Linked DNA regions of Homo sapiens: region 1 is linked to region 2. The links come from fine-mapping of genetic effects on gene expression. A gene starts in region 2. The other region holds a variant in brackets. All regions are shown on one strand. Distances are from middle to middle.

Region 1 (5,378 bases), 37 kb before region 2:
CTATGCCATCCCACATTTGCTATATACCAAATTTATCCAATTCTGAAAAAAAAGTTTAAGTTTTCCAATATAATTTTATTTAATCAAATTCTTCTTTTATTTCTTACAGGTTTTGCTTCATATATCTAGCTATTATGTTGTTTTGTATCTGCACTTACACATTCTCCATCTGTAATTATCTAGATATCTTTTGTCTATATATGTCTTTATATTGATTTATTTGTTCTACATTTTGTTGCTCACTACTGAAGCAGTGTTGTTTGTCTGGGGTAATACCCCAGGTTCATTGCCTCACACCAAGGAAATCAAGGAAACGGACTAAGAAGGAGTGAGTTTAAGAGTGAAAGTTTAATAGGCAAAAGAGAAAAGCTCCCTTGTGCAGAGGGAGGGGGTTCCAAACGGATCTCCCGGAACCTGGCAAGATGCGGCTGGTTTTACGGATGGGCTTGAGGAGGTGGTGTCTGATTTGCAGAGGGTGCAGAGAATTGGTTGGACCAGGTGTGTCATTTGTATAGCATCTGAAGAGGCTGGCCACTGCACCCTAATCTTTTATTATGCAAAGGAATTTTCTACCTGGCTGGCACCATGTTCCCTGTTTCTTTACTGCACACATGGTGACAAAGAAAATGGAAGATGGAGCTTCCATGTTGAACATGCCTGGCCCCAGATAGCCTTTTCCTATTGGCACAGCTGCCGGCATTCACCTGCACAAGCTTCCAGCTTGCTTATCTATGTCTGCAGCTCGATTTTACTGGCTGCTGTTTGTTAGAAAAGAAATGGTTTTGGGGCTGTTTTTTGTTAAAAGTGAAGCCTCACCGAGGACTCTCTTACCCTCACTAACTGCCTAAATAATTTCTTTTCAGCTCCTATATCTCTACCATTTCTTCCCTTCTTTATCATCTTGTAGTTTCTCTTATGGTTAATCTATCATCTGGCTAGAGTCACTTCTTAAGTATTTTCTTAGGGTGGGAAAATGTAGGCATTAGTCTTTGACTTCATACATACCTACAAATAATTTCTTCCTATCACTCTGACAACTAAATGATTCTTTGGCTGGTCAAGAAATTCTTGAGTTGGAGTCCTTGCATTTCAGAAGTCTGCAGATATTCCACTAACTTCTAGCTGCTGCTGATGCACAAGAAGTCTGATTCTGTTTGCATTATAATTAATAAGGCAATTTATTTTTTCTGAGTGGAAAAGTTTGTAAAGATTTCTTTTTTTCCTTAGAGTTCCAGAATCTTTCCAGAATATTGCTAAGGGTGTGTGTGTGTGTGTGAATTTATCAATCAAGCCTGGACTTGTTGAATCCATTTAATCTGTAGATTCAGGTATTTCTTGGTCCAAAAATTTTTCTCCTTTCTTATGTTGCTTTTCCTTCTATGTGTCTTTTTCCCCATCTGGATCTCCCAATATAATATGCTAAACTTCTTGGATCTATCCTCAAAATGTCACATATCCTTTCTCTCATGATTTTAATTGCTTTTGTGAACCCAGAAAATCTGAAACAGGTCTCAATTAATTTAGAAAGTTTATTTTGCCAAGGTTGAGGATGCGTCATGACACAGCTTCAGGAAGTCCTGATGACATGTGCCCACAGTGGTCAGGGCAAAGCTTGGCTTTATACATTTGGGGAGACATGAGACATTAATCAATGTATGTAAGAAGTACATTGGTTCAGTCTGGAAAGGCAGGACAACTTGAACTAAAGGCAGGAAGCAGGGAGGGAGCTTCCAGGTCACAGATAGGTGATACACAAATGGTTACATTTTTTTGAGTTTCTGATTAGCCTTTCCAAAGGAGGGTAAGTCAGATATGTATCTATGTCGGTGAGCAGAGGAGTGACTTTGAATAAAACGGGAGGCATGTTTGCCCTAAGCAGTTTCCAGCTTGAGTTTTCCTTAGTGATTCTGGGGGCCTAAGATATTTTCCTTTTATACTTTATATCTTTCCTCCTTGTTCTAAGCTATTTTCCCCATTTGATCATCTAGCCCACTAATTTGGGTCTCAACAGTGATCATCTCCTTTCACTCATGTAAGGAATTTGAAGTTGCAAAATCTTTTATTTCTTTTTTTTTTCCTTTAGATATTAATATATTGTTTTTTGCTTTGTTGACTCAGTGGGGCTCATGATTGGTTGTGGAGTATCCTGAGAAGCAGGAGTCATAGTAAGGGAGGAGAACACCCCTCTTATTGTCTTATGCCCAATTTCTGCCTCCAAAGAAAAAAGAATTAAAAACTGAAGGGCAGAAATGAAATCCACAGGCAGGCAGCCCAGCAACGTGCCTTGGGCCTAGTAGTTAACAATCAACTCCTGACTTAACTGCTTGTGTCCCAGACATTGTATGGAAAAGCATCGTGAAAATCCCTGTCCTGTTCTGTTCCATTCTGATTACCGGTGCATGCAGCCCCCAGTCAGGTACCCCCTGCTTGCTCAATCGATCATGACCCTCTCACTCGACCTCCTTAGAGTTGTAAGCCCTTAAAAGGGACAGGAATTGCTCACTCGGGGAGCTCGGTTTTTTTGAGACATAAGTCTGCTGATGCTCCTGGCCAATAAAGCCCTTTCCTTCCTCAACTCGGTGTCTGAGGGGTTTTGTCTGTGGCTTGTCCTGCTACATTTCTTGGTTCCCTGATCTGGAAGCAAGGTGATAAGCGGATGGTCGAGGCAGCCCCTTAGGCGGCTTAGGCCTGCCCAGTGGAGCATCCCTGTGGGAGACTCTGGCCAGCTTTGGCGATGCGAATCCTGAGAGCGCTCCCCGGTAGGCAATTGCCCCAGTGGAACGCCTCCAGAGCACTGCACGGTAGGCCCCCGCGGAGGATTAATGCAGCGGCTGAACACCGGGAAGGAATTGGCGCTTGGAGTCCGGACATCTGGAACACGGTAAGACCGGTCTTCGAACTTGCCCACTCCATCTGAGTGGAAGTGTGGCCTGATCACCCAT[G/A]GCGTGCCTTTTTGGCACCTTGGTTTTGGTTTTGATTTTGACTAGATTTGCACTGTTTTGGTTTAGATTTCAGTATTGACTTTTGGTTTTGAACTGTTTTGGCTTTGATTTCGGTTCTGACTTGGCTCAAATTGCTTGATGAATAAGTAACTCCTTATCCATACTTTGGTTTTAGTGTGAATTGCTTGGTGAGTGAGTGACTTTTTGCCCCTTTTTCCCTTCCCTCTTTGTGGTAAGAGTGTTGTTTTGTCTCCTGAGGAAAATGAGTAAAACACAAAGTAAGCCTACCTTGTTAGGAACTATGTTAAAGAATTTCAAGAAAGGATTCAATGGGGTTAATTTTGCCACATATCACCTTGTGAGGTTTATTATAGGAGGGTGTAGGTAGTTTGTTTATGCTTCCCACGACCTCCCACTGTGCGGTCCAGATGGTTTGTAATTGGGGTTTGCTTACTGCAGCAAGGTCTGATAAGTGAAGTCTGCTGGCTTCACCGTGGTGCCTAGACAAGGGCTTAGAAATGTAAAGAGACTTGGGGGAAGTGTGGGCAGCACCAAGAAGCTTTCTTGGGGGAGTCTGTCCCTAACAACTCCTGTGTGCCTTGACGTTTATAGTGGTGGGAAGAACTGTGGATTGGGAGAAAGTGAGAGCAGCAAGATTTTAGAGCCAGACCAAGGTACAAAAATAACATAATGGGTAGTGCACACGTCTTAGTGTCACTGTGCTTCTCTGATGACATAAACAATTTAAAAGTTATCTGCACATCTAATATGGCTAGCACAAATCACAAGAACCTTAGAAAATACTTCCTTTGGCTGGGTGTGGTGGCTCATGCCTGTAATCCCAGCACTTTGGGAGGCCAAGGCGGGTGGATCACCTGAGGTCAGGAGTTCGAGACCAGCTTGACCAACATGGAGAAAACTTGTCTCTACTAAAAATACAAAATTAGCCAGGCTTGGCAGCACATGCCTGTAATCCCAGCTACTTGGGAGGCTGAGGCAGGAGAATCACTTGAACCCAGGAGGTGGAGGTTGCAGTGAGCTGAGATTGCACCATTGCACTCCAGCCTGGGCAACAAGAGCAAAACTCTTGTTTCAAACGTCTCAAAAAAAAGAAAGAAAGAAAGAAAAGAAAGAAAATGCTTCCTTTAGTGACCATTGTTAAGCTTCAGAATTCCTAAAGAAGAAAAATCTTCTGGGAGTTATTTAAACATAGGATATGTTTTTACCCTAATGGATTAATTGTCCTTTTGCAAAAAGTGGTGTGATGATGACTTCTCAAGTTCTTGCTGCTAATCCTTTGATTCTATGTTTTCTTAGAACTAGAAAGAAATTCCTGGCTCTCTCTCTAAGATGGCCAACTACACGCAGCCAGGAGGAACATCTCCCCCCAAGGGACTAGGACATCCGAAGACTGGCAGACCTTGTCTGACCAGCAGAGTGCTCCAGCAGAGTGGCCCCTATGGACACACACCAGCCTGCCTGTGCCCTCCCTCCACTGCAGCCTCCCCCATGCCACTTTGACTGCATGCACTTGCCCACAGCCACCCCCTGCATCACTGTGCCAGTGTATGTGTATGAAGGCAGACTTTGCCTTACCTTCCCTGCCAGTATGTGTGGGTGTGTGCACCCTGCCATGTCACTGCTGCCAGGGTGACTGCACCCTGCTCCCCTCCCCCGTCACAATGCCATTGTTGTCAGATGGTGGTGAGCATGGAGCTTGCCAGTCCTACCCCTGCAAGTGCCCTGCCTCTGTGCCAACACTGCCACTGGCACATAACTAGTCATGGAGAATAGTGAACCCACCCTTGCTCTGACCAGCCACTGCTGTGGGTGTGAATGTGCACAGAGACCTCACACAGTCCTGCACCCTCCAGTGCCCCAACCCTGTACTAATACCACCACCAGAGGAACATGCACACAGCCCCATGAAGGCTGCCACCCTAGTACCCACTAGTACCCTGCTGTAGCTGATGAGCATGCAGTATGCATCCCACCATGCTGCTGCTGCTGCTGCAGCTGGCACAGGCAAATTAGGACAGATCACACTGTCACCCTGCTATGATGTGCTTTGGATGGCATCACCCATTAGAGTATTGTGACCAGTAGTCTGGGAACACCTTGGCCCCTCCAGCACAATAGGTTCATAACCTCGAGGAGCCAGAGAACAAAGTTGGGGCTCAATACCAGTCTCCCAGAGTTAGAACATGCAGTCCAGGAGTCCTGAGCTGAAGCTTGGCCCCCTAAAATCTTCCAGAAATGAAGTCAGTCACCTGAACCCAACACTACTATAATCAGGTCCCCAAGGTCACCAAATAGGATAAAGACAAAAAAGACAGCAACTTCAAAGATGGAAAGAATAAAAGCCCACAAATATAAGAAAAAACCAGCACCATAACTCTGACAACTCAAAAAGCCAGAGTGCCTTCATTCCTCCAA
Region 2 (5,378 bases):
AACAAAAAACAAAAAACAAAAACAAGCAAAAAACCATGACCCTCCAACCCCCCAACAAAGATTCAGGTTCTAGTACTCTGCCACTGTGCAGAACTCAAGGGTTTGGAGTCACAGACCACAGAGGTCAAATACAGTTCCAATGCTTACTAGCCTTGTAATCTTATGACTTAATTTCTCTGAGCTTCAGTTTCTGCCTCTGAAAAATGGGAGCACATCATCTTATGGCATCATTGTGAGTATTAAAAAGCATAGTTAGCACCTATGACAGGATCTACTGCATTGTAAGTATTAAATAAATGGGATTTTTGCCTACTTTTCTCCCCATGTGATGGAAATAATACTTTCCCTGGGTTCCTGTTAGTATATTAAGAAAATTCCAAGGCTGGAATTATGCAACATTAAAATTAGAAGGAACCAAGGGCTGTCAATTTTACCTCTAAATCTTTTCTCGAAATCTTCCATTTCTTAGCATTTCTCCTAGTATCAAGCTGGTATAGGCTACCATCATCTCTCATCCTATTACAATGACCTCCTTCAAACCAGCCCTCAAAATCTCTATCTCTTCACCCTCTCCTCACTCCATTCTTGCATAGCAACAAGACACATGCTTAAAACTCTCTCATGTGCACTTAGAATAAAATCCAAACTTTATCATAGCCTTCAAGACCTGACACGGGCTGACTTGCCCAAATTTATATTTGCCACTTTCCCTCTTGCTCACTTCCCAGTACAATGTCCTTCTTTCAGAATTTTAGTAGTTACCCTCCTTGCCTCTGGGCTTTCCCATGTGCCTCTGTCATTTTGTCTCAAGGCATTCTGTAGGTCTTCATAGAACTCATAACCACTGTAATTAAATAATGAGGTTCATAGTTAGTTGTTTAATGTCTGTCTCCTGGATCATGTTCACCATTGTATCCCCAATACTTGGGACAGTGCCTGACACAGGGCAGGTATTCAATAAATATCTATTGAAGAGTAAATGAAGAGACATCTTGCCCAAATGCTTCATTTGTAGATTAGAAAGCTACAGTTAGGATACGCTACAGTTAGGATACAAGTGACTTGCCTAAGGCTGGAGCACCAAGAGTTCTTTTTTCCCAGGCCAATATTCTTTTTTTTTTTTTTTTTTTTTTTGAGACAGAGTCTCGCTCTGTCGCCCAGGCCGGACTGCGGACTGCAGTGGCGCAATCTCGGCTCACTGCAAGCTCCGCTTCCCGGGTTCACGCCATTCTCCTGCCTCAGCCTCCCGAGTAGCTGGGACTACAGGCGCCCGCCACCGCGCCCGGCTAATTTTTTGTATTTTTAGTAGAGACGGGGTTTCACCTTGTTAGCCAGGATGGTCTCGATCTCCTGACCTCATGATCCACCTGCCTTGGCCTCCCAAAGTGCTGGGATTACAGGCGTGAGCCACCGCGCCCGGCCTTCCCAGGCCAATATTCTTTTGCTCCACTTAACTCTGAGGTCCCTTCTACCTTTAACGTTCTGTTATCTCTGAAAATACAATAAAGTGTGAAAATATCTTACAGATGGAAGATACCTCTTTTTCGTTTTGTACAATACATTTGGCTCTATTTCCCACTCCCCCACCGGGCACTTTTATTATCCTGTTTCTCTGCTTCCTCCTAAAGTTAAATTTAACATATTTACTGCATAATCTAGTAGGTGAAGCAGATAATTCCTGTAAACAAGGAATCATATCCAATAAGGTAAATGCAAAGGCAAGATGAATGAAGCACAGAGAAAGTACAGCATAGGCTGTACTTTTTTGTGCAGGGAGTAGTAACGAAAAAAATTGTTGTGCAGGGAGTAGTAAAAAAGGAATCACAGAGATGATTAACTTGAGATAGCTTTTGAAGGATGATAGGCGTTTGCCAGGTGAAGGAAACATTCCAAGCAAGGGAAACAGCACGTGTACAGAGGCACTGCATCCATTCAACACATACTGAGTGCCTACCAGCAACTCCAAGCTGCTTTCTCTACGTGGGAAAATGCATAGGTCACTGAACTCCACAAATGGTAGTTGGTACTGCCACAGAGAAGAGGAAGCTGCAAATGTAGTGGAAAGCAAGGGTTAGATCAGAGCACCTTGTACGCCACGCTCAAAGGCACGTACTTTGATCTATAGAGATGGAAATCCACGGAAGACTTTTGAGCAAAGAAGTGACAACCTCTGATTTACATCTGTTTTGAGTTTCCACTCAGTTTGGATCACGCCCCAGATTCAATAAGGAAGACAGAAAAAATGCCTCGAGAATCTGCATAGGCCAAACACAACACACCAAACAGTCACACATGCGAACATACTAGGTATTTACAACAACTTGCTGAGATGGTTGGGCAGAACTCACTACCGCACAGTTAAAGAGAAAGCTTGGAAATAGTTACGTGACAAACGTTGAGGTGCCCAGGCCCGGCGCCCCAGGGTTCCCGGACACCGCCCGAGGCCTCCCCACCCTCCGGCACACACCCGCTCACCTCTGCAAGTTCTCGATCTCAGCCGGGATGCTCTGCAGTTGGTTGCCGCCCAGGCTCAGGGTCTGCAGCGCGCGCAGCTCTAAGAGCGAGGCAGGCACCTCCTGGAAACAGTTGCCGCTGAGGTTGAGCACCTGGAGGCTGCGGCAGAGCGGCGACTGGGCCAGGCCCTTGGGCAGCGCACTGGGCCCGCCGAGCCGGTTGTTCTTGGCCAGCAGCGTGCGCAGGCCGCGCAGAGCGAGCAGCTCCGGCCCGAGCGCGGTCAACGCGTTGCCGCTCACGTCCAGCAGCTGGAGGTGCGGGAAGCCGCTGCCCAGCGCCCGTGGCAGCGACACCAGACGGTTGTGAGGCAGCAGCAGCCGCAGCAGCGCCTCCCGCGCCCCGCGCCGCTCCTCCCCCCGCGCCTCCAGCTCAGACTCCAGCGTCTCGGTGGACACGCTGAGGCGGGACCAGTTCAGTTCGGCCTCCCCGGCCGTGACCACCGCTGCTCCGGCCTCCTCCATCCTGGCCACCGCACGGCGCGTGGCGCCGGATTCCCCAGAGCGCCGCGCGCGGTCCAGAGGCCGGGAGCTCTGCGGCGCCCCGGAACCTGAACCGAGGGCTGAGTCGGAAGTGGCGCGGGCGGGCGCAAACCCTGCGCGCCTTGGCCGAGTCACGCGACGCGAGTCCTGGGGTGCGCGCGCCGCTCCGGGGCGGGCTCTGCCTCACGAGGCGCGGGGCGCGGAGTGGCAAGAGCGCAGCATGGGCTGCGCAGAACTGAGGCAGACACCCAGAGGCTGCCAAATTGTCATCTGAGCCGGACCGGGTTTCGGCGGCCGCGCTTTATAGTCGCTGGAGCCTGGTGACCTATTCCAGGGCTACAAGACTGCCTCGGCAAACAGCCCAAGGATGTTCGGTTATCTCGCCTTGAGGGTTCGCGCGTCACGTGCCCCCCCCGTCCCCCGCTTGTTTTTCAGTTTAAAAGTGGGGCCCGTGTCTGCAGGACTCTGTGAGCACACAGTAATTTAGTGGTGATTTAGCTCCATGACAGAAAACCGCAGGAATTTAAAGTCCGAGGATTAACAAAGCCGACCTCGAAATGTGAACGCAGCTGGACTAGACCTCAGAACCCCCGGACCCTTACTGGAGGTTCCGCTGTTAAATAGCCTAGGGCAGGGATTTGATTTCAGTTGCCCCATGCATAAAATATGGGTAACACCCGCACTACTTGCCCCACAGAATTATTTTTTTCTTTTTTAAGGCAGAAATGTGTATCAAGTAAGGACGTTTTGCCCGTTTTAATTGTAGAAGCACATACGTGGCTTTTGGTGTAAGTTGTGTCTAGGAGTGAATTTGGGAGATATGGAGGCGGTTGCATGATTTGAGATAGCTCAAATTAATGAGTTAGTTTAAAAACTCAAAGCATAGAGTTTGTACTGCAGGTCAAAACTACAGTTTGGGAAAATCCTGATCTGGTACTAATTTAGTAATTCTAATTAACGTATTTTTCATCCTTGTCCCAAACTCAATCTTTTCTGAAATTACATTTTATGATTTTGAAAAGTAATGAATAGAAATGAGAAAAAATGCTTAGCTTTTTTTTTTTTTAACAAAGCTTATACATAAGAAAGTTAAGTGGTCGTGTATAATCAACGACATTAAATTGCTTTCCTCCTTAAAAAAGGAAAGTCGTTTTTTTCTTGCCAGTCATTTATTTGTATGAGAAACTATGCCTTTACTCTGCAGTCAAACTTTAATTTCTGATTGAGTGGTAGTCCTAGAAGGACGTACTTTGTATGTTTAAGCTAATGGTGGAATGCTTTTTAAAACTGATGAGTCATCTGTTTTGAAAGAGTCCTTTTAAGAACAGACCTTATTTTGGGTCAAGCCAGCATTCTAACAGTAGTCCTAATATCTGAAAATAACAAATATTTAAAATAATAGTTGTTTTTGCTTTAAAATATTTATCTTGGATTTTAAAAAGTGATAGGAACGTAATGTAAAATGAGAAAAAGAAAGGATTCAAACATAATTCAGAAATAAGAGTTGGCCAGGTGCCATGGCTCATGCCTGTAATCCCAGTGCTTTGGCCCAGGCCAGCAGATCGCTGAGGTCAGGAGTTCCAGACCAGCCTGGCCAACATGGGGAAACCCCGTCTCTACAAAAAATACAAAAATTAGCCGGGCCTAGTGGCGCTCGCCTGTGGTGCCAACTACTACACAGGCTGCTGGGAGGATTGTTTCAGCCTAAGAGGTAGAGGTTGCAGAGAGCCATGATTGTGCCACTGCCCTGCACTTTTTTTTTTTTTTGTCTCAAGAAAAATAAAATAAGAGGTAAGATTACAAATCAGTGGAATTAAAGGGAAAAAGATAACCTCAATAATAGCAAATGAGGCTTCCTAGTAGAAAGTTTGGAAAAAAATACTTAGTATGGGAACTCCACATTATATAGAATAAAGGAAAGGAAGTAGAAAAAAAGTGGTGTAGGTAAAGAAATGAGTAACCTGACAAATTTTGAAAACCTACTGCTTGCAACGCTGTACTAGGAGCTTTTAATTTAATAAAGTCTCCAACTATTTGGTTGTTGAATTTAGGATAAATGTAACCAGACCATTGAGCAGCTAAGATAACTGAGAAACTGCTTTCTAAAAGTTGAAAACTGTGTTTCTGCCTCATTGAAGCTATTGGCAAGGAAACTGTAAATTTCAGTGTAAAATGCACATCTCATGTCCAATTAGAGTAGGTTCCTACTTACATAGAATGACTATCTTTATTCATTTTTGGATTCTCCCTCACACCACCACCATCCCCCATTGCCTAGTATGATTTCTTGCAAATAATTTGGATTGACTGAGTTGGATATATCTCTTAGTTAGTGGACTTATTTTTTGAATAATTAGAGTAAATTGTAAAGTCCTTGAAAAGAAC

What was found. PIP is the estimated chance that this variant, and not a neighbour inherited with it, causes the effect.
Region 1: its variant is the best candidate, but not a certain one, in a credible set for the expression of LRRC58 in whole blood (INTERVAL, PIP 0.75).

What each region holds. Positions count from the first base shown.
Region 1 is chr3:120,309,299-120,314,676 of GRCh38, forward strand. No RefSeq gene overlaps it. Among named protein-coding and RNA genes, the nearest start is that of GPR156, 27 kb to the left of the region's middle. RefSeq lists an enhancer at 4,051-4,654. The variant G/A (reference allele first, on the strand shown) is at 2,943.
Region 2 is chr3:120,346,269-120,351,646 of GRCh38, forward strand. It overlaps LRRC58 (leucine rich repeat containing 58), which reads right to left and starts at 3,086. Exons shown (of 4, transcript NM_001099678.2): 1 at 2,476-3,086. The coding sequence starts at 2,975. It also overlaps the pseudogene BTNL12P. RefSeq lists an enhancer at 2,352-2,401 and a silencer at 2,752-3,081.